Homo sapiens: one gene and its partners. The protein of the gene in region 3 purifies or fractionates together with the protein of the main gene of each other region. This does not show direct contact. Each region holds a gene or a part of one and is shown on either strand. Other genes may lie near its edges. The genes, in order: DNAJC3, CNTNAP1, NXPH3, WDR73, MAN2B2, GUSB and CRELD2.

Region 1 (3,500 bases), on a different chromosome or scaffold from region 3:
TAAGGAAGTTATTTCATTTCTTTGCTAATGGTTTGTCCTCTTGGTGACTTGAGTAGCAACACAGCCTGGGAACGAAACCTTTTTTCTCTTATCATAGTTTTATCTCTTTTTCTTCCTTAACATGCTATCTGGACCCAATTTTTCTTTATTTCATTGAGCTGATTAAACCATATATTTTGGCCATGGGGAAAAGAATAGTTGAAAATATATAGTTGAAAATCTATACGTATAAAATATTGTGATAAGTTTTATTTGAACCATGATAAGTTTTATTTGAACCTAACCTATTAAAGGTATGTTTTGTCTTTTCTAGGATTTTCTTGACATTATCTAAATAGGGAAAGAATAAAGTAGCAAAAATGAGTGACTTTAAGTAATTTAAATAAATTAAGTATCATAAAAGGTGGTCACATATTTTCTAGAATTATTTTAAATTCTTTAATAAGATAGGCTGTAGTTAGCAGTAGTATCAAAGTTCCAGTTCTCTTGACATAGTTAGTATTTGCTGAGAAACTGCCTGGAAATGCAGTGGTTTTCATTCTGTGAGGTAGGGGAAGTTGTTCTGGGAGGGGATGCACTGTAGTAATTAGGTTTTATTTTCCCATATGAAGTTAATTAATTGTTGTTAAGTTTAATTTCTACTGCTGTGGTCTCTTTTGATTAGTGTCCTGCAGTTAATCTTTGTTTATATGGAAGTATCATGGGAACCCATTCACCTGCTCTTCAGAACGCAAACATTTCAACCATAGATTTATTTTTCTTTCCATATCTTTAGAAAGCTACTTAAAAAAATTAAATCTGATGAGTTTGTATCATTTGGAGTTCTGGAATATGGAGAAGACTCATTTAATCAGTCAGCAAAGGCTTTTACTAACTATATTGCTCTTTGGTGAGGTATATATACGTAGCATAGAACTCATGGCTTTTGCTTTTGAGTTTACAGACCACTTAGGGTTTAAGACATGCATTTGTGAAGCATTCACGTCCTCTTTTTCTCCTTTCCCGCTTTAGACTGAGTGGTCCATTATTGTAGTTAGTGTACTGCAAATGCCCATTTATTTTCTGGCCCCTGTAATCTTCTGTTTTACTCACCTGCCAAAACCCAACACTGGTTAAATTCAACTTGGCCAACTGTTTTTATACCTTATAGGTAAACACGGACGGAGGAAAATGGAGACAACTTTGCTGATTAGTCTCATTTATCTTTATTTTTATTTTCAATTTTTTTTCGAGACAAGGTCTTGCCCTGTCACCCAGGCTGGAGTGCAGTGGCATGATCCTAGCTCAATGTAGGCTTGACCTCCTGGGCTCAAGCAGTCCTCCCATCTCAGCCTCCTGAATAGCTGGGACCACAGGTATGCACCACTGCATCCCCTACTAAGTTTTTAAAATTTTTTGTAGGGACAGGGTCTTCTATGTTGCCCAGGCTGGTCTTGAACTCCTGGGCTCAAGCAATCCTCATCCCTTGGCCTCCCAAAGTGTTGAGATTACAGGCACGAGCCAATGCACCTGGCCCTGATTAGTCTCATTTTAAAGAAACAATCTCAGTCGCAAATGCACATTAAATACTGCTAACACTCCCACAATTCTTTACTATGTCTATTCTTGAAAATCAATATTTCAAACATTTTCCTCCTTTCTGAAGCCTCTAATTTAAACTCTCCTTTCCTCTCTCCCCTACCTCATTCTTTTAGACCTTGTCTTTACTGAGAAAATGAAAGCCATCACAAGGCAAGTTCTTCTTTCTACCTCAAAATTCACTAGCTTATCTACATTTGTACCTATTCTGCTACTTTTTCTCATATTGAAATACATTAAATGTCTCTATTCCCAGATAAATCTAATCTGTGTACTTACACCCTGGATTCCATTTCCTCTCACCTTCTGAAAATGTTGCTCCTACAGTTGTATCTTTGTGCTGCTATAACAAAATACCACAGACTGAGTAATTTATAAAAAAAATTTCAACCTGAATTTTGGAGAGAACATTCAGATAATAGTAGATGCTGAACTTCCTGTACTATCTTTCTTTGGCTAGATTCCACTGTCTTCTGTGTTTCTGCTACAAGACTTCTTTTAGACTCTACCCCACCTTGCTAGAGTCTTGGCTTAGCCTTCTGTTCTTTTTTAGAGAAGAAACTTAGGGCTTTCCTCATTCCTCATATTCTAAGTGCTCCAACCTGAATAACCATCTCTCTCTCTGGGATTGCTCTCTGGTCTGGGTCTGCCACCGCCTTTGCTTGAACTTTAGTATCTTTGACTATGAGTTCTTGCCTCCTTTAGTCTGGTTCTTCCAGTCTTGATTGTAACTCACGTCATACCTTTAACCCCCCACCTTTAAGTTTAAAAAAATCCTTATTTTCTGCTCTCCAAAATATAAGATATTCTAATACTAATTTCAGTGAAAGACATAGTTGGCTACTCTACCTTTTTCCCTGCCCTTGCTGCTTATTTTGCTGACTTATGATCACTGCTTGTCTAAGGAGAAACCTATTGTCTAATGCTGATTAGGAAATGGCATGATGTTTGGTTGTCTTACCTCTCTGAAAATAATGTTTACAGACCATGTGGCAAAGGAATAAAAATTACCTGTGGCTCAAAAGAGAGTGGATTGCAAAAACAGCCAATAATTCGCAAATAATTTGATTTTTCAGATGTGTCTTTATGAATCATTGATCATATGTTTGACTTGATAATTGTTATGTATTTTAGATTTTATTCTGATGAATTATAATACGTTTAAGTAAAAAGGCAAATAGTTAAATTCATTCAACAAATATTGCATACCCACTATGTGCGGGATACTGAATTAGGTGATACAAAGAAGAAAAGACAGCTCCTCCTCTCAAACTTGCTTTTGATAAGTTTTGTGGAGTTGGGACTTTGAGAAGCAGGCAAATTGTGAAAAGCAATATATAGAGAGAGTGATATTGCAAAGTGAAGTCATGTACTTCTGAGTGTGGAAATGCAAAATATAGGAAGATTGAAGGAGCTTTTTTTCCCTCTCTCAAAACAATACAGTGTGAGGGAAGGTTTCACAAAGGAGCCAGCATTTGAGGGCAGAATCTTTTTTTTTGTTTAACTTTATTTTATTTTAGATTCAAGATATACATGTGCAGGTTACATGGGTATATTGTGTAATGGTGGGGTGGTATGATTTAGATCTGTGCCCCACCCAAATCTCATGTTCAGCTGTAATCCCCAGTGTTGGATCTGGGGCCTGGTGGGAAGTGATTGGATCATGGGGGTGGTTTCTAATGGTTTAGCACCATCCCCCAGAGCTGTTATTGTGATAGAATTCTCACAAGATCTGGTTGTTTAAAAGTGTGCAGTATCTCCCCCCTCTCTGTCTTCCTCCGGCTCTGGCCATGTGAAGATGTGCCTACTTCTCCTTTACCTTTTGCCATGATTGTAAATTTCCTGAGGCCTCCCCAGCCATGCTTCATGTACAACCTACAGAACCGTCAGCCAATTAAACCTCTTTTCTTTATAAATTACCC
Region 2 (3,500 bases), 6.9 Mb from region 3:
TTCAGCTGCGATATCAGCTGGGCACCAGTCCCTACGTGTACCAGCTAACCACTCGACCAGTGACCGATGGCCAGCCCCATAGCATCAATATCACCCGTGTTTACCGGAACCTCTTCATCCAGGTATGCATAGAGGGAGGTGAGCCAGTTCAGATCATAACCTCATGGTCTCCGTTGTGGCATCCAGGAAAACATCAAATACTTAATATTTGTAGATCACATTTGAATGTATAGAGGATTTTCACGTGTGTCACCTCATGTAACCCTCACAATAGCTCCAAGGGGACAATAGGCATTTTTTTTTTTTTTTTGAGATGGAATTTTGCTCTTGTTGCCCAGGCTGGAGTGCAATGGTGTGATCTCAGCTCACTGCAACCTCTGCCTCCCGGGTTCAAGCAATTCTTCTGCCTCAGCCTCCCGAGCAGCTGAGATTACAGGCATGCGCCACAACGCCCAGCTAATTTTGTATTTTTAGTAGAGACAGGAGTTCTCCATGTTGGTCAGGCTGGTCTCGAACACCCGACCTCAGATGATCCGCCTACCTCAGCCTCCCAAAGTGCTGGGATTATAAGCGTGAGCCACCGCGCCCAGCCAGACAATAGGCATTCTTATTTAAGTGTTTTACAAATCAGTAAAGAGCCTCAGAAAGTAAAGCGGTTTCAGCTACTCAGGAGGGTGAGGCAGGAAAATTGCTTGAACCTGGGAGGTGGAGGTTGCAGTGAGCTGAGATCGTGCCACTGCACTCCAGGCCTAGGCGACAGAGTGAGACTCCATCTCAAAAAAATAAAGTGGTTTACCCAAAGTCAAACCGCTGGTAAGCTGCAAAGATGGGGCTTAAAACCAGGGTTTTAAAAAATATATAGGCCAGGTGCAGCGGCTCACACCTGTAATCCCAACACTTTGGGAGGCTGAAGTGGGAGGACTGCTTGAGGCCAGGAGTTTGAGACCAACCTGAGCAACATAGCAAGACCTCATCTTCACAAAGAAAAATATTTAATAAATAAAATAAAATAATAATAATAAAAATATATATACCAAATCCTACATCTAGGCCCAGGGGTTGCCCACTTCAGATTGAGCTAGGACTCACCCAGCTGGCACCGCCAGTTTGGACAGAATGAGAGATCTCCAGTATCTGCCCCCAAGTATATTCCCAGGGTCCACACAGTTCCAGTCCAGCCCACAGGCATCTGCTTCTGGTCCCCGCTCCCTCATCGCCCTCCCCCTCCCCCTCCCCACCTCAGGTGGACTACTTCCCACTGACAGAGCAGAAGTTCTCGCTGTTGGTGGACAGCCAGTTGGACTCACCCAAGGCCTTGTATTTAGGGCGTGTGATGGGTAAGCTGCGGGTGCGGACGCGTTTTAGGCAAGGAGCTGTGGCATATGTTCCTGGATCCTCAAGGAAAGTGAAGGCCCTGGGAATGGCTGAGGGCAGTGGGAAGGATGAGTGGGAAACCTGTGGACAGTGAGAGTGGCAGGGCCTTTGGGTCCAAGTCCCTCTTTCTGGGCCTGCCTCTCTCTCAGAGACAGGAGTCATTGACCCGGAGATCCAGCGCTACAACACCCCAGGTTTCTCAGGCTGCCTGTCTGGTGTTCGATTCAACAACGTGGCTCCCCTCAAGACCCACTTCCGAACCCCTCGACCCATGACTGCTGAGCTAGCTGAGGCCCTTCGAGTTCAGGGAGAACTGTCCGAATCTAATTGCGGAGCTATGCCACGTCTTGTTTCAGAGGTGCCACCTGAGCTTGATCCCTGGTATCTGCCCCCAGGTACATTCCCAGGACACAGAGGACAGAAGGGAGGGATGACACGGAAGGGAATGATTCTTAACATGGAGGAGGCATCTCCTAACTGGTGCTTTCTCCTCTCCAGACTTCCCCTACTACCATGATGAAGGATGGGTTGCCATACTTTTAGGCTGTGAGTAGCACTGATCACTAAGCTGACCTCCCAAGACTACCCTCTGACTGTCAGCATCCTTTCCCTGCCCCTGATCCCCAAGGCTGCAGGATGGCAAAGGCACTAGATGCACAATGGCACAAAGGATGATGAGACAGGCTATGCTGAAGGTGCCATATAACTGGGCAGAGATTTTTAGATGTTTGAGGATGAGACAGGCTATGCTGAAGGTGACATATAACTGGGCAGAGATTTTTAGATGTTTGAGGATGCTACAGATTTTTAAATAAAATATTAAAATGAGACTATAGCTAAGGGATGGGAAAATGGGGATACAGTAACACCTAGAGAGATAAGAAATTGGGGTAACTACCAGGGATGTGGAAAGAGAATATTAGAAACAGAAGGTGGCAGGGGGTAAGCCAGGAATTCAAACCTGCCAGACACTTGAGATGAGTTTAGTGTGGTCGAACAGCTAACTGAGGGTCATACATTATGCTTTTGGCCAAAAGTAAATGTGTGTGTGTGTGTGTGTGTGTGTGTGTGTGTGTGCAGGTGAAATCCCAAAGTGTGTGTATGTATACAGGTGAAATCTCAAAGAGTGCGTGTGTGTGTGTGTGTGTGTGTGTGTGTGTGTGTATACAGGTGAGATCCCAAAGATCTGAATTGTCCCTTTTCTTCTTTTCAGTTTTGGTGGCCTTTCTGCTGCTGGGGCTGGTGGGAATGTTGGTGCTCTTCTATCTGCAAAATCATCGCTATAAGGGCTCCTACCATACCAATGAGCCCAAGGCTGCCCACGAGTACCATCCTGGCAGCAAACCTCCCCTACCCACTTCAGGCCCTGCCCAGGTCCCCACCCCTACAGCAGCTCCCAACCAAGCTCCAGCCTCAGCCCCAGCCCCAGCCCCAACTCCAGCCCCAGCCCCTGGCCCCCGGGATCAGAACCTACCCCAGATCCTGGAGGAGTCCAGGTCTGAATGAGTCAGAAGGGCTTCTGGGACCAATTCCAGCTCCTGACATTCCCCCAGTCCTGCCTCTCCCCCATCCTATCAGGGACATTTGGCTCCTCTTAGCTGGCTCTGCTCATCCAGAGGATATTCCCCCATCCCCCCCCCATCAAGTTTGGTGGGCAGAGCTACAGATGGGACCCAAGGGAGTGGCCGAGCCTCACTGCCTAAACCAATGCCCTTCTCATCCCTGTTTCCCCAGGCTCCTGGCTGTTTATCTGCCCCAAAGGAGAAGCCTCATGGGGTTGACATAGGTCCTTTCTGCCATCTCTGTTCCAGCTGCTGTCAGGGATTAACAACAGAGTGTAGGGGAGATTAACTGCCTCCCTTCCAATAGACACTATCAGCAGGGACAGATGTGTGGGAGTGCAGGGCTGCAGAGGGTATGGGGGGAGGAGGCTGCTAAACCCTATCCCCCAGCCTCCCCCCTGCCCTGAAGATCTTCCATTTGCTTCCACTCAGCTGGAGGCTCAAGAGGGCTTGATGGCTGTCCCCTGCCCCCCTCCTTTTGTTTTGTACACAGAGACCAAGAGGCCTCAGTTTAGCACCTTAGTACCTCCGCTGCTTCACTTGCTTTAGCCAAAGCCATAAAAA
Region 3 (2,728 bases):
GACGGTGGCCCTGAACCTGCTCGTCACAGGGAAGATTGTGGACCATGGCAATGGGACCTTCAGCGTCCACTTCCAACACAATGCCACAGGCCAGGGAAACATCTCCATCAGCCTCGTGCCCCCCAGTAAAGCTGTAGAGTTCCACCAGGAACAGCAGATCTTCATCGAAGCCAAGGCCTCCAAAATCTTCAACTGCCGGATGGAGTGGGAGAAGGTAGAACGGGGCCGCCGGACCTCGCTTTGCACCCACGACCCAGCCAAGATCTGCTCCCGAGACCACGCTCAGAGCTCAGCCACCTGGAGCTGCTCCCAGCCCTTCAAAGTCGTCTGTGTCTACATCGCCTTCTACAGCACGGACTATCGGCTGGTCCAGAAGGTGTGCCCAGATTACAACTACCATAGTGATACCCCCTACTACCCATCTGGGTGACCCGGGGCAGGCCACAGAGGCCAGGCCAGGGCTGGAAGGACAGGCCTGCCCATGCAGGAGACCATCTGGACACCGGGCAGGGAAGGGGTTGGGCCTCAGGCAGGGAGGGGGGTGGAGACGAGGAGATGCCAAGTGGGGCCAGGGCCAAGTCTCAAGTGGCAGAGAAAGGGTCCCAAGTGCTGGTCCCAACCTGAAGCTGTGGAGTGACTAGATCACAGGAGCACTGGAGGAGGAGTGGGCTCTCTGTGCAGCCTCACAGGGCTTTGCCACGGAGCCACAGAGAGATGCTGGGTCCCCGAGGCCTGTGGGCAGGCCGATCAGTGTGGCCCCAGATCAAGTCATGGGAGGAAGCTAAGCCCTTGGTTCTTGCCATCCTGAGGAAAGATAGCAACAGGGAGGGGGAGATTTCATCAGTGTGGACAGCCTGTCAACTTAGGATGGATGGCTGAGAGGGCTTCCTAGGAGCCAGTCAGCAGGGTGGGGTGGGGCCAGAGGAGCTCTCCAGCCCTGCCTAGTGGGCGCCCTCAGCCCCTTGTCGTGTGCTGAGCATGGCATGAGGCTGAAGTGGCAACCCTGGGGTCTTTGATGTCTTGACAGATTGACCATCTGTCTCCAGCCAGGCCACCCCTTTCCAAAATTCCCTCTTCTGCCAGTACTCCCCCTGTACCACCCATTGCTGATGGCACACCCATCCTTAAGCTAAGACAGGACGATTGTGGTCCTCCCACACTAAGGCCACAGCCCATCCGCGTGCTGTGTGTCCCTCTTCCACCCCAACCCCTGCTGGCTCCTCTGGGAGCATCCATGTCCCGGAGAGGGGTCCCTCAACAGTCAGCCTCACCTGTCAGACCGGGGTTCTCCCGGATCTGGATGGCGCCGCCCTCTCAGCAGCGGGCACGGGTGGGGCGGGGCCGGGCCGCAGAGCATGTGCTGGATCTGTTCTGTGTGTCTGTCTGTGGGTGGGGGGAGGGGAGGGAAGTCTTGTGAAACCGCTGATTGCTGACTTTTGTGTGAAGAATCGTGTTCTTGGAGCAGGAAATAAAGCTTGCCCCGGGGCACTGGAGTCAGAGTTGTCCAAGGAAAGGGCCTCAGGCATCCCTTGGTCCAGGAAGAATTTCTCTGATGGCCGCAGGACATTTGCTTGAGACCCAAGTGGCAGGGATCCAACCGCCCTTGGCGCTGATGTTTGCTGAGGGCTCAGGGCTTCCCTCTCCAGCCCCGGTTCCAAGCTGTCTGATCCCCCACGAGGAAACTTGAGCAAACACCCTGGGCTCGGTGCTGGAGGAGGGCGTAGCATCTTCAAGAACAGCTCAGGGAGGGAGAGCTAGCAGGTAGAATGGGCCAATGAGGGTGTTCCTTGGTGTCCTCCCTGAACTGCCATCTGCAGACCCAGCAGGGTCCTAGCCCCGTCATTTTGCTGCGTGGCCTTGGCCATGTCCATTCTCCTCTCTGGCTTTCTTTCTTTGTTTCTTCCTCTATGACATGAAGGGCTTGCCCAGACCAGGGGTTCTCAAACGCGGATCACCCAGAGGGTTTGTTAACACACAGATTTCTGGGTCCTACCCACATTTCTAATTCAGCAGGCCTGGGTGGGGCCTAAGAATTAGAATTTCTAACGAGTGCCCAGGTCTATGCTGATGCTGCTGCTCCAGGGCCCATGCTGGGAGACCCACTCAAAGGACCTTGAAGTTCATCTCTGGCTATGGCTCCGCAGGAGGGGGAGACACCTCGGATGTGATTTCCCAGCTGTAATTTCCATCTGCTTCTCCTGGGGAAGGGGCCTTTCAGAGAATCGGGGCTATTGTATTGGATTTTCAATCTGACCACATGCCAGTGAAGGAACAGGCTGGAGTGGGGTGTGGACACAGGGCCTGCGTCAGTCACTCCCCTCCTGCAGCTAGTAAGAGGCCTCAGAATGGCCAGCTGCCAGTGGCACCTTGTCTGGGAGTTAGTTGGGCCCTTTGGGACTCTGTGAAGGGAAGACACTACCAAGGTCACAGTGCCTTCTGGAGGTCATTCTAAGTCGGCTCTCTTGGGAGGGCAGCACTCAGGGCCCTTTGGGCCCTCTTGAGGAGAGGAGAGTCCTGGCAGTAAGGTAAGATGGGCTTGCCACCCCCCACCTTTCGCCCCTGCCCACCAGCGCTCCGCGCAAACTGGTCCCCTCATACTGCAGCGCAGAGTTGGGTGGGGCTGAGAAGCCATCTGGTTACAGCCCACCTTGTAGGAAATGACCCAGCTTGTTTCCCCCACATCATGCTTCCAGGGGCCGTCTCTCCTGAGTGGAGATGTGAGACACAC
Region 4 (2,749 bases), on a different chromosome or scaffold from region 3:
CAAAGGCTTCTGTTTCCCCCATCGAGTAGGAGACAAGGCCATCTGCTGAAAGGGACCCAGAGGTAGGGGACTGGACTCTGGGGCAACTTGAAAAGGTTTGAAGAAGTCTCTTAAGCCTCAGTTTCCTGGGTAAAATAACAGTATCTGTGTCATACAGTTCTGAGGATTAAAAGAGCTAATACTTGTCCAGAATTAGCCTTCGAGCCTCACGCATAACAGGTGCACAACGGATGCTCATGGTTACATGCCCCACGGAGTCATCAGCTGCCAACACTGAGGGCAGATGCTACTTGCCCGTGGTTAGCCTTTTAAGTGCCTTGATTCCTCATCCAATAGCCTGTTTTGGTACCATAGAACAAATTATAAAAAGTATTTTAGGGGCTGGGTGCCTGTAATCCCAGCATTTTGGGAGGCTGAGATGGGAGGATCGCTTGAGGCTAGGAGTTCAAGACCATCCTGGTCAACATGGTGAAACCCCATCTCTATTAAAAATAGAAAGAAAATTATTTTAAAATAAAATTAGGGACTCATTGTCAAGCCTCTCTTTTCTGTATTCTCAGGTTTTGATGGTACAGTCCAGGTCTATGATGCCACATCTTGGGATGGAACACGGAGCCAAGATGGAACACGGAGCCAAGTAGAACCTCTCTTCACTCACAGAGGTCACATCTTCCTAGATGGAAATGGGATGGACCCTGCTCCTTTGGTCACCACCCACACCTGGCATCCCTGCAGACCAAGGACTTTGTTATCAGCAACAAATGATGCCTCTCTGCATGTGTGGGACTGGGTGGACCTTTGTGCCCCCCGCTGACACCAGCATCTTTCCATCTAGGCCTCTAGAAAGGGGAGGAGCTGCTGTAGTAGCAAGGGTGCTCATGTAGGACTCAAGTGACTACCAGTCCCTGTTACCAGCTGTGTGGCCTTGGGCAAGTCTGCCAGCGTCACTTAGCCTCAGTTTCCTTATCTGTAAAATGAGGATAGTAAGAACTACCTCGTAGTGATATTGCGAAGGTTAGAAGAAACGCATGGCATAATTACTTGGTAGCTATTGTTAGATCTGGGAGTGTGAAATGGTAGCGTTTTGTCCCTGTCTTCACACTATCATAGGGAGAATCAAAAGAGCTAACAAATATAAACATGCTTTGTGAATTTTTTTAAAGAAAAAAATGTAGAGGGGCCAATAAACATGAAAAAATCCCAGCCCTAGTAGCAATTAAGGAAATAGCAAAACAGGATTTCTGCTCCTCTTGAGTGGGTCTCATGGGAACACAGGTGCACTTTCCCACACTTGTCCCCCCAGGTGACTAGGTTCAAGAGACATTTGCTTTTGGTGGCCCCACAAACATTTCCTTTTGAGGGCCCATAGTGAATATTAAAGTGTGCTGGACATGGTGGCTCATGCCTGTAATCCCAGCACTTTCAGAGGCTGAGGTGGGCAGATTGCTTGAGCTGAGGAGTTTGAGACCAGCCTGGGCAACATAGCAAGATCCCTTCCCTTAAAAAAAAAAAAAAATTTGGCTGGGCATGGTGGCTCATGCCTGTAATCCCAGCAATGTAGGCAGCCAAGACAGGTGGATCACTTGAGTCCAGGAGTTCGAGACTAGCCTGAGCAACATGGCGAAACCTTGTCTCTACTAAAAATACAAGTTAGCTGGTTGTGGTGGTATGAGCCTGCAGTCCCAGCTATTCAAGAGGCTGAGGTGGGAGGGTTGCCTGAGCCTGGCAGTTGAAGTTTGCAGTGAGCTGTGATCATGCCACTGTATTCCAGCCTGGGCAACAGAATGAGACCCTGTTACACACACACACACAAAATAGATAAGTTGTTCACTCTGTCAGCATCTATTAGCCCTTCCCATGTGCAACACTAATTACATGCTAGAAATACATAAATGAGAGGCTTCCTAAGGTGGTTGAATTTTTTTTTTTTTTTTTTTTGTAGTAGAGATGGAGTCTTGCTCTGTCACCCAGGCTTGAGTGCAGTGGCGTGATCTCGGCTCACTGCAACCTCCACCTCATGGGTTCAAGCAATGCTCCTGCCTCAGCCTGCCAAGTAGCTGGGATTACAGGCACGTACCACCATGCCCAGGTAATTTTTGTATTTTTGGTACAGACGGAGTTTCACCATGTTGGCCAGAATGGTCTTGATCTCTTGACCTTGTGATCTACCCACCTCGGCCTCCCGAAGAGCTGGGATTACAGGTGTGAGCCACCGCGCCCGGCCAGGGGATTTCTCCTGTGTGAATTCGCTGGTTAAGTGATAATTAACTGCAGTTAAAATTCAGGTCAAGCATGTGGCTCATGTCTGTAATCCCAGTACTTTGGGAGGCTGAGGTGGGAGGATAGCTTGAGTCCAGGAGGAGTTCGAGATCAGCCTGGGCACCATGGTGAACCCCTGTCTCTAAAAAAAAAGAAAGATTTTTATTTAAAAAACCTAAACAAATTCAGATAGGAATTTAAAGATAGACCAGGCACAGTGGCTCACGCCTGTAATCCCAGCACTTTGTGGGGGGCCAAGGTGGGTGGATCACTTGAGGTCAGGAGTTCAAGACCAGCCTGGCCAACATGGTGAAACCCCGTCTCTACTAAAAATATAAAAATTAGAGACGGGCATGGTGGTGGCACACCTGTAATCCCCACTACTCAGGAGGGTGAGGCAGGAGAATTGCTTGAACCTGAGAGGTAGAGGCTGCAGTGAACCGAGATTGTGCCACTGCATTCCAGCCTGGGTGACAGGGTGAGACTCCAT
Region 5 (3,500 bases), on a different chromosome or scaffold from region 3:
TGTGGGAGGTGAGGAGTGGGGCTGGCATCAGGTGCACAGCAGAGGTGAGAGGGGATCAGGGGGAGCGTGGACTAGGAGTGTGGGTGGAGGCTGTGCATATGTAAGCAGAGAGGATGGAGAAGGAGCAGCCAGAGGGTGGGGGGAGCACAGGGGGAGTGCCAGCTGCAGGATGAAGGAGGGAGTGGGCAACAGCACCGCACTGAGAGGAGCCAGGAGCTCTGGAGGGTACGGCCTCGCACCAGACAGGGCAGCCGGTGGGGGCAGGCTGAAGGCTGCCAAGTCAGCACCCCTTTTTCACTCGCAGAACCTTCCCTCTGTTCAGGGTGCACCATGCCCAGCCTCAAGGGACGAATCACAGTTGATCTAAGCCAAATGTGGCACGCTTACTCCCTCCTGTCAGATATTGGTTCTCTCTGTCTGGCAGCTGGAGGGGCATTGTTAAGTAATGAACTGGGAGGCCATCAGGCTGAGCCGGCTCCAGGCCTCGAGTTCCTCTGTCAGCAAACCCAAATCTAACTTGGTGGAAACAGGAAAAGAGAACTTAAGCTTGACCCATCGGAAACTGCCAACCAACCTCTAACTAGGGACTGTTCACTGTAGGCAAATGTTTTCTTTGTCTTGCTTTCAGGAGCACCTTATAGACGTTTCCCTCTCATATTCCCTTAGTGGAGCCATGAACTGCTCACAGTCTAGTACTTCCTGATTCAGGAATCACTGTTTGTTCAAATAAATGCTAACATTTTAGTGTGTCTAAGTTTATCCAACAGAATAGACTATGGGTATAGAAAGCCCCCTCTCTTCCTTTTACTGCCTTGAATGTGGTGTCTGGTAACATGATGGCTGGAGCTATGGCAGCCATATCGTGACCACAAGGGTAAGGACATGAGAATCACAGATATCAAGGTACTGCAGAACCAGTCCCAAACTATCCCCATCTTGTTAAGTAAATGTTCTTAAGACTCAAGTCGCTTTGTTACAGGTAGTTAGACAAGCATGAGTGGGGCAGGGGAGGGCTCTTCCCCCACCCACTAGGAATGTTGGGTGATGGTTTGGCAATTATCACATTGCCTCTCTAGAAGTGAGAAATTGGCAGCCAGCACTAGGGAGAGGGCATTTCCTGATGGTCCACACCTGTTGCACTAACATGTTAATTGAATGCAGGTGCCAGGGAGACGTGACTTCCCGAGCAGGTGCATTAAGAGACAAAATGGCGGAGTTTGACCTTCCAGGGACACTCCACTGGAAAAGGGAAGAAAGCGTCAGATGGGCATGTGTGCAACTTCCTAAACACAGTGCGTGTGCTCACCTCCCAAGGGTAAGGAGGGCACTGTGAGTGCGGGTAGCCCAGCCTAAGGGAAGAATCATGGGAAAGGGGACCAGCCTATAAAGTCCTAGGATCAAGGATCAATACAGCACTTGACCTTCACGTGCCCACTTGGGACTCTTTCAAGCATATTTTCCTTTCTTTCTCATTTTAAAGCCTTTTTAAATAAACTTCCACTTCTGCTCTGAAACATGCCTCAGTCTCTTTTTCTGCCTTATGCCCCTCAGTCGAATTCTTTCTTCCGAGGAGGCAAGAACTGGGGTTGCTGCAGACCCGTACGGATTAGCTGCTGGTAACTTGGATACCTTCCACCACTAACAGCTTTACTTAGGTTTTCTGGCCGTCCAGCAGAAAGCATTCCTGAGACTTCAGGGTGATTCATGACCAAAACTGTTAATTGGCGTCCGATATACATTCTGTCCTTCTTCCTTTTAGTAACAGAACCACACACTCCTTCTTGGTTTTAGCAGGGCAAATGGACTCCCAGCCAGAGACTACATTCCCCAGCCTCCTTTGCAACTGGTAGAGGTCACATGACACCACTCTGGCCAATGGACTGGGAGCAAAATAGACTCTATTCCCCAGCAGTCCCTGCAGTTGAGGGAGGCCATATGATTAAGTTCTGGCCAATGGAAATGTGAGGAGTGATGTGGGCAGGTTCTAGGTCGCCTTTTACAAGGAAGCTGCCTGCCCTGGCTCCACCATTCCCTATCCCCTAGCTGCTGGAAGGACAACTCAGTGGGGTGAGCCAGTCTAGACTGCAACTCAGGCAGGCAACACTGTGGGGGATGGCTGAACATCAAGATGGAAGCAACGTGGATCCCTGGGTCACTCCATGGAGCAGAGCCACCCAATCACCAGAGTGGCCTGCACTGCAGACTTCCACAGGAGAGAAACACACCTTCCTTCTTGTTGGAGTCACTTGGTCTCTGTTCAAGCTGCTGAACCAGTATCCTCACCAGTATAATGACCAGGCCACAAGCAAGCTCACTAGCACATGCAGGGCAGAGGCCAGGATGCAGGGGCTGAGGGTGAAGTAGTGGGAGGTGGTGGGGGGTGAGGGGGTGGTGGGAATAAATGCCATTACAGCCTGAGCTGGAGGGTCTTGCTTTATGATGTTGAGGTCAGGAGTTCAAGACCAGCCTGGGCAACACAGTGGACCCCATGTTAAAAAAAATTTTTTTTTGAAGAGAGACAATTTAAGTGTGTTTTCAATACTGCTGGGGGCCGGGCTTGGTGGCTCAGGTCTGTAATCCCAGCATTTTGGGAGGCCAAGGTGGGCGGATCACTTGAGGTCAGGAGTTCAAGACCAGCCTGGCCAACATGGTGAGATCCCTGTCTTTACTAAAAATATGAAAATTAGCTGGGCATGGTGGTGCACGCCTGTACTCCCAGCTACTCAGGATGCTGAGGCATAAGAATTGCTTGAACCTGCGAGGTAGAGATTGCAGTGAGCCGAGATTGCGCCACTGCACTCCAGCCTGAGTGACAGAGTGAGGCTCTGTCTAACAACAACAACAACAGCAGCAACGGCAACAACAACAACTAAATACTGCTGGAAGGAGTCAGAGAGACAAGAGAAGGTGGAAGAGAGTCTGTGACACAGGAGAGGGATCGCGGATTCAGTGGGAAGGGAGTGGGGTTGGGGGACAGGGCTGAGAGCTTGGGTTTGAATGGCCAGGACAGCAGTGGTCATCCAGGATGGCCCAAGGTGTCTCCTTGACTCTCACCTGGACCCTTTGCCTCTCAGCACCTCTGAGGCGGGAGCTGGGCTCTCTCCCCTCAGGATAGGGGTGAGGGGTTCTTTCCCTCTGGCACCTGCCACTCTGCTGGGCCTCCGCTAAACATCCCAGCTGGGAAAGTGTCCCCTCAGGGAGGGGCATGAAAGCTCTTACCCCCGGGGGCCGCTGCCCACACCCAGCCTTTCCCTGACACTGCAGTGCTGGGAACAAATGCTTTTCCCCTCACTAGAAATGTCACATCTAAAATTAAGGTGGTGTTGGCGTGACTGCCGGGAGCAGGAGTTGGGGAGGTAAAGGCTGGAAAGGTGAGCTTACGGGCAGGCCCAGTGCCCCAGGCCCTGGCGGGCAGCCAGGAGTGGGTCTTGGTTGAGGAGATGCTTTGGCACCCTAGATACCCGAAGAAGAAGGTCAGAGGTCTAGAGGCTGCACCAGCC
Region 6 (2,515 bases), on a different chromosome or scaffold from region 3:
GTTTCTCCATGTTGGTCAGGCTGGGCTTGAACTACCGACCTCAGGTGATCCGCACATCTGGGCCTCCCAAAGTGCTGGGATTACAGGCATGAGCCACCATGGCCAGCTGAAACTCGGTCTTAAAAAGAAAAAAGAAATGAGCTGCATCACGTTGGGCAAGTCACCTAAGCTTTTCATAAGCCTGTCCAGTGGGGATAATGCCACCTCCTTGTTGGTGTCGTAAGGGCTGCATTTGATGAAGTACTTGGCGATGCCTGTGTTCACTTATGGAAGAAACAGTCTTGAACCTTTTGGTGGGGAAAGCCCCCTTTCCATTTAACATTTCCATTTAGTGGTGGTCTTACTGGGGACAGAGAATGTCCTGAGAGCACAGCCCTGACAGGTCGTTGCCAGCTGTGCTCCTCCACCAGGCTCAGCTCAGGCCTAATGACCACCAGTGGTGGGTGCTGCCAAGCTGGACGTCAGCCCCGGCGGACTTTGAACTCCATGAGTAGGTCCCACGCAGGGACCTGTGGCTGGTCAGGACCCTGGCTCCCACTAGGCGCTATCTCTTCAGAAAGGCCCAAGGCTTTTCAAGGGTAACTGTCCCAGATACCCCTAGCCCTCTGCCTACCCAGTTACCAGACAGCTGGGTACCCAGCATGTAAACCTTAGTTTGCAAATAAAAGATAAACTTTTAGTGCTTTTTTTTTTTTTGGAGATGGAGTCTCACTCTGTCGCCCAGGCTGGAGTGCAGTGGCACAATCTCAGCTCACTGCAACCTCTGCGTCCTGGGTTCAAGCGATTCTCCTGCCCCAGCCTCCTGAGTAGCTGGGACCACAGGCACCCACCACCATGCCTGTATAATTTTTGTATTTTTAGTAGAGATGAGGTTTCACCATATTGTCCAGGCTGGTCTTAATCTCCTGACCTTGTGATCCGCCTGCTTTGTCCTCCCAGAGTGCTGGGATTACAGGCATGAGCCAATGTGCCCAGCCAGTTTTTGTATTTTTAATAGAGGCGGGTTTCCTCATGTTGGCCAGGCTGATCTTGAACTCCTGACCTCAGGTGATCCACCTGCCTCAGCCTCCCAAAGCACTGGGATTACAGGCGTTGGCCACCACACCTGGCCACTGTTTTGGGTTTTTTTCCCCTAACAGACTAGAAAACTAGAAATTAACACACCAGGGAACCTGGGTGTTTGGGCAGAGCAGTGGTATTTAAATATTTCAACCCATAAATTGTCACTTCAGAGCAAGCATCCTGAAACTGTAAGAGGACATTTGGCTGAGCATGGTGGCTTGTGCTTATAATCCCAGCACTTTAGGGAGGCTAAGGAGGGCAGATTGCTTGAGCCCAGTAGTTTGAGACCAGCCTGGACAACATAATGAGACCTTGTCTTTACTAAAAAATAAAAATAAAAGATTACCGGGCATGGTGGTGCTGGAGAGGCTGAGGCAGGAGGATTGCCTGAGCCCAGGAGGTTGAGGCTGCAGTGAGCTATGATTGTGTCACCGCATTCCAGCCTGGGCAACAGGGAGAAAAAAGAAAAAAAAAGACATTTCTATTTAGTGCCTACCTTAGCTCCAGACTGGTTCTAACTTGACCCATCAGAAGACATCTGAATCGCTTTGTGTCTTTTTTTTTTTTTTGTAGCACCGACGAGAGTGCTGGGGAATAAAAAGGGGATCTTCACTCGGCAGAGACAACCAAAAAGTGCAGCGTTCCTTTTGCGAGAGAGATACTGGAAGATTGCCAATGAAACCAGGTATCCCCACTCAGTAGCCAAGTCACAATGTTTGGAAAACAGCCTGTTTACTTGAGCAAGACTGATACCACCTGCGTGTCCCTTCCTCCCCGAGTCAGGGCGACTTCCACAGCAGCAGAACAAGTGCCTCCTGGACTGTTCACGGCAGACCAGAACGTTTCTGGCCTGGGTTTTGTGGTCATCTATTCTAGCAGGGAACACTAAAGGTGGAAATAAAAGATTTTCTATTATGGAAATAAAGAGTTGGCATGAAAGTGGCTACTGAAAAGCATCTGAAATCATTTCTGTGCGTCGTGCTGTTTTCAGAGCTTTAACTGTGTGTGGACTTTTGAGAAACTGCTGCTCCAACACCCCCACCACGTTCAGAGCAGCTGGTTCCCGAGGGCGTCTGCAGGAATAGCCCCATGGTCCTAGGGCCACCGTGTTTGTGTAGCAAACCAGGCCAGCCTCGACAGGGAGTGAGTAGAAGACTTTCACAGCTGCTGTTCGACTCCTCAGATGAGCTAAAGTCCCACATGTACCAACAAATTCATAGAAACGCTGTCATTGTTGCAGCACTTAACAGGGTCTGTGTGCCAGTTTCTACATAGTTAAGCTGGCAGTGTCTGAATTGGAAGGTTAGAGGTAACTGGTTCTCCCAGAACATTGTTTTGACCTCAGCCATAGGGTCTTGACAGAAATGGACAGATGAGTGTAAAAGCCTATTGGCTTTATCATAACGGATGCCACTGAATGTGACAGGACCTCCTTAAACAACTTTGCCTACAA
Region 7 (3,202 bases), on a different chromosome or scaffold from region 3:
GGGACCAGGCCAAGTGGGACTTGGGGGCTATGAGGAGCCCAGGGAGGAGGCCATGGCCCCCCGGAACGGAGCTCCCAGAGCCTGCAGCCTCTCACCCGCAGCCAGCTTTCTTCTTGCAGTGTCTTCATTCCCAGATGAGGAACGGGCAGGCCCTGCGGTTTGTGAGTGGCTGTTTCCTCCAGCGAAGCCCCCAAAGATGCTTTTCCCCTGCCTGAGGGTCCCTGCTTGTACATCCTTTGAATCACTGAAGAGGGCCCATAGGTTGGACCCCTGAAACCCACCTGGTCACGTCTTCAGGTTCTCGCCCAAGGCAGGGCCCTCCCCTCCTCCCCCAAGCGGCACGTGAGCCCTGTTCAGGGACAGCAGAGCCACCAGCCCAGGACCGGACCTGCTGCCTCTGCGGACCTCGGCAGCCCTGGTCACTCCCGGCTCTGGCAGGACAGGTGCAAACTCAGTGGTAAAGGTCCGTCCTGATTAATGAGACAAACCCACGCCCGTTCTCCTCCTGATTACCTACAATGGTCAATTTTATTACAAAGAACTGTATCAAAATATACAAGTCTGTTTAAGAACAACCAAGAAATGCAGCTGTTTAAGGGACAAATGAGAATCAACCGTTAGAGAGCAGGCAGCCTCTCCCCGCCGCTGTCCACTGCAGGAGACGGCATCCTCAGGGCCACATTTTCCACGGGACATCCTTCTGAATAATTTAAAGGGTAAGTCCGGCACATTACAGGTCTTCGCGGGAGGGCAGCTGTGTCGGGCTTTCTCCTTCTGTGGCTTCTGTCAGAAAACAAGCATAGGTCGTCAAGGCTGAGCACAAAGGGCCCTGGGGATGAGGCCTTTCCCAGGACAGCAGCGCATGTGCAGGGCCTGCCCGTCCAGTCCTGGCTCAAAGCCCCGGACGCAGCCATCCAAGGGCAGCTCGGAGACCCCCGTTTCCCACAAAGCAGATGAGAGATGAGGCAGACGGCATTTCAGAGCCCCCACGCTGCCGTGGGTGTGGAGGATGCAGAGTTGGGAGCGGCAAGGGGTTCCTTGCGGCCTGGCAGAATGGGAGCCTGAACAATGGTTGTGGCGGGAGGAGAAAGAGGGGACCGAGGGTGGGGGAGGTAGGAGAAAGAGGGGACTGAGGGTGGTACGGGGAGGGAGGGGCAAGAGGGGACCGAGGGTGGGGGGGAGGGAGGAGAATGAGGGGACGGGGGGGAGGGAGGGGCAAGAGGGGACCCGGGGTGGGGGGAGGGAGGGGCAAGAGGGGACCCGGGGTGGGGGGAGGGAGGGGCAAGAGGGGACCCGGGGTGGGGGGAGGGAGGGGCAAGAGGGGGGGAGGGAGGGGCAAGAGGGGACCCGGGGTGGGGGGAGGGAGGGGCAAGAGGGGACCCAGGGTGGTGGGAGGGAGGGGCAAGAGGGGACCGAGGGTGGGGGGAGGGAGGGGCAAGAGGCAGGGCCAGCCCAGGGCAGAGGGGACCGAGGGGGTAGCAGGCAGCCTTGTCTTCTGGCCTGTCCGTCTCTGCTAACCCCTCAGTTCTGTCTTGCTGTTGCTGTTTACTACGATGCTTCTAGATGTGGAATTGCTTTTATTTGTCCTGCTCAGGAAACAGCTTCTGGAATCTGAATCGTGCCTTATTCATTCTGAAAAACCCTTAGCCAATATCTCCTTGAACACTGCTTCTTTCCCACTCTCTATATTCTAGACTTCTGTGAGGACTGTCACGGGCAGATTTATGTCCCCCAAAACACGCTGAAGTCTTTACTCCCAGTACCTGTGATTGTGACCTTGTTTGGAAATAGGGTCTTTACCACTGGCCAGGTTAACATGAGGGCATTAGTGACTGGTGTCCTTACAAAGAGGGGAGGTTTGGACAGAGACAGACACCCGCATGGAGACCACGTGAAGACACGGGGAGCAGGTGGCATCCCCAGGCGAGGACAGAGGCCCGGAACAGACGCGCCCACCCAGCCTCCCAAGGAAGCAGCCTGCTTGCGTCTGGGCCTCTGACTTCTGGCTCCTGTGAGCGGCACATTTCTGTTGCTGGAGCCCTAAGTTCCTGGTTCTTGGTAAGGTAGCCCCAGGAAACAGGTGTGGGGGACCCGCTTGCCCTCCACCACTTCCTGCCTGTCCCTGTCTCTGCGGCACCCTGGGCAGCTTCCCCGGATGACTTTTCCAGCTCTTTAGCTGCCTCTTCTCCTGCGTCTGCTCCTCTGCTCATCGCCCGCTGAGGTCTGAGCTTCAGAGACTTCCCCCTTCATCGCCTGAACTTCCGTTTGAGCTGTGAACCTGGGGCTTCATCCTCAGGAAGCCAGTACCTCTCGCGCAAGCGTGCCCACACAGAGATGTCATGCACCTGTCTTCCGGGAATCCCCCTCTCACCATCTCAAGGCCACCATCTGTGTGGATTTCAGACCAAGCAGCCAGTCTACGTGCAAGCCCTGCGGCCCAGGGGAGGGCAGCCTGTGTGGAGGGCAGCCGTGCCACTCACCAGCCTCTGCCGGCGGCACACAGGCATCTTCCGTTTCTTCGAAGCCGTCAGGACACACACAGACGTAGCTCCCTGGAGTATTGTAGCAGTTTTCGTTTTTCCTCACACAGGTTTTTTCTGCTAGTGAGCACTCGTCCACATCTAAAATGAAAAGACTCCGTTTTAATAATTACTTTGCTCAGCAGACGCGCAGCGGATTATGAAATTCATTCATTCAGATTCATTCACATAAAGAAAGCACAACGATGACAAACGTCACGTTACAGAAAGGAGCAAAGATCAGGAAAGGCTTCGAGAGGGAAGAATTTCACGTCTCCAAGTTGGGCCCTCAACTGGTAGAAAATGCAGAGAAGAGACCTCCAGGTGGGGCCGGAAGGCCAGCATGCGCCCAGGAAGCCCACTTTCTTTTCCTTTTTTTTTTTTTTTTGAGGCGGAGTCTCGCTCTGTCGCCCAGGCTGGAGTGCGGTGGCGCGATCTCCTCTCACTGCAAGCTCCGCCTCCCGGGTTCACGCCATTCTGCTGCCTCAGCCCCCCGAGTAGCTGGGACTACAGGCGCCCGCCACCACGCCCGACTAATTTTTTGTATTTTTAGTAGAGATGGGGTTTCACCGTGTTAGCCAGGATGGTCTCGATCTCCTGACCTCGTGATCCCCCCGCCTCAGCCTCCCAAAGTGCTGGATTACAGGCATGAACCATGGCGCCTGCCCAGGAAACCCACTTTC

The links.
Region 1: the proteins of NXPH3 (region 3) and DNAJC3 purify together in Homo sapiens (co-immunoprecipitation; one large-scale study listed by IntAct). This does not show direct contact.
Region 2: the proteins of NXPH3 (region 3) and CNTNAP1 purify together in Homo sapiens (affinity purification with mass spectrometry; one large-scale study listed by BioGRID and IntAct). This does not show direct contact.
Region 4: the proteins of NXPH3 (region 3) and WDR73 purify together in Homo sapiens (co-immunoprecipitation; one large-scale study listed by IntAct). This does not show direct contact.
Region 5: the proteins of NXPH3 (region 3) and MAN2B2 purify together in Homo sapiens (affinity purification with mass spectrometry; one large-scale study listed by BioGRID and IntAct). This does not show direct contact.
Region 6: the proteins of NXPH3 (region 3) and GUSB purify together in Homo sapiens (affinity purification with mass spectrometry; one large-scale study listed by BioGRID and IntAct). This does not show direct contact.
Region 7: the proteins of NXPH3 (region 3) and CRELD2 purify together in Homo sapiens (co-immunoprecipitation; one large-scale study listed by IntAct). This does not show direct contact.

What each region holds. Positions count from the first base shown.
Region 1 is NC_000013.11:95,680,139-95,683,638, forward strand, and holds part of DNAJC3 (dnaJ homolog subfamily C member 3 precursor), read left to right. Parts: intron 1-3,500. UniProt on the Homo sapiens protein: Involved in the unfolded protein response (UPR) during endoplasmic reticulum (ER) stress.
Region 2 is NC_000017.11:42,696,031-42,699,530, forward strand, and holds part of CNTNAP1 (contactin-associated protein 1 precursor), read left to right. Parts: coding exon 1-122; intron 123-1,243; coding exon 1,244-1,337; intron 1,338-1,523; coding exon 1,524-1,769; intron 1,770-1,872; coding exon 1,873-1,920; intron 1,921-2,587; coding exon 2,588-2,880; 3' UTR 2,881-3,500. UniProt on the Homo sapiens protein: Required, with CNTNAP2, for radial and longitudinal organization of myelinated axons. Plays a role in the formation of functional distinct domains critical for saltatory conduction of nerve impulses in myelinated nerve fibers.
Region 3 is NC_000017.11:49,578,871-49,581,598, forward strand, and holds part of NXPH3 (neurexophilin-3 precursor), read left to right. Parts: coding exon 1-430; 3' UTR 431-2,728. UniProt on the Homo sapiens protein: May be signaling molecules that resemble neuropeptides. Ligand for alpha-neurexins.
Region 4 is NC_000015.10:84,641,535-84,644,283, reverse strand, and holds part of WDR73 (integrator complex assembly factor WDR73), read left to right. Parts: intron 1-560; coding exon 561-814; 3' UTR 815-2,749. UniProt on the Homo sapiens protein: Component of a multiprotein complex required for the assembly of the RNA endonuclease module of the integrator complex. Associates with INTS9 and INTS11 in the cytoplasm, stabilizing the INTS9-INTS11 heterodimer and blocking the active site of INTS11.
Region 5 is NC_000004.12:6,581,689-6,585,188, reverse strand, and holds part of MAN2B2 (epididymis-specific alpha-mannosidase isoform 1 precursor), read right to left. Parts: intron 1-3,500.
Region 6 is NC_000007.14:65,960,184-65,962,698, reverse strand, and holds the end of GUSB (beta-glucuronidase isoform 1 precursor), read left to right. Parts: intron 1-1,635; coding exon 1,636-1,802; 3' UTR 1,803-2,015; downstream 2,016-2,515. UniProt on the Homo sapiens protein: Plays an important role in the degradation of dermatan and keratan sulfates.
Region 7 is NC_000022.11:49,924,836-49,928,037, reverse strand, and holds the end of CRELD2 (protein disulfide isomerase CRELD2 isoform b precursor), read right to left. Parts: intron 2,622-3,202; coding exon 2,481-2,621; coding exon of another isoform or gene 2,368-2,480; exon of another isoform or gene 1,470-2,367; intron 784-1,469; coding exon 731-783; 3' UTR 501-730; downstream 1-500. UniProt on the Homo sapiens protein: Protein disulfide isomerase. Might play a role in the unfolded protein response. May regulate transport of alpha4-beta2 neuronal acetylcholine receptor.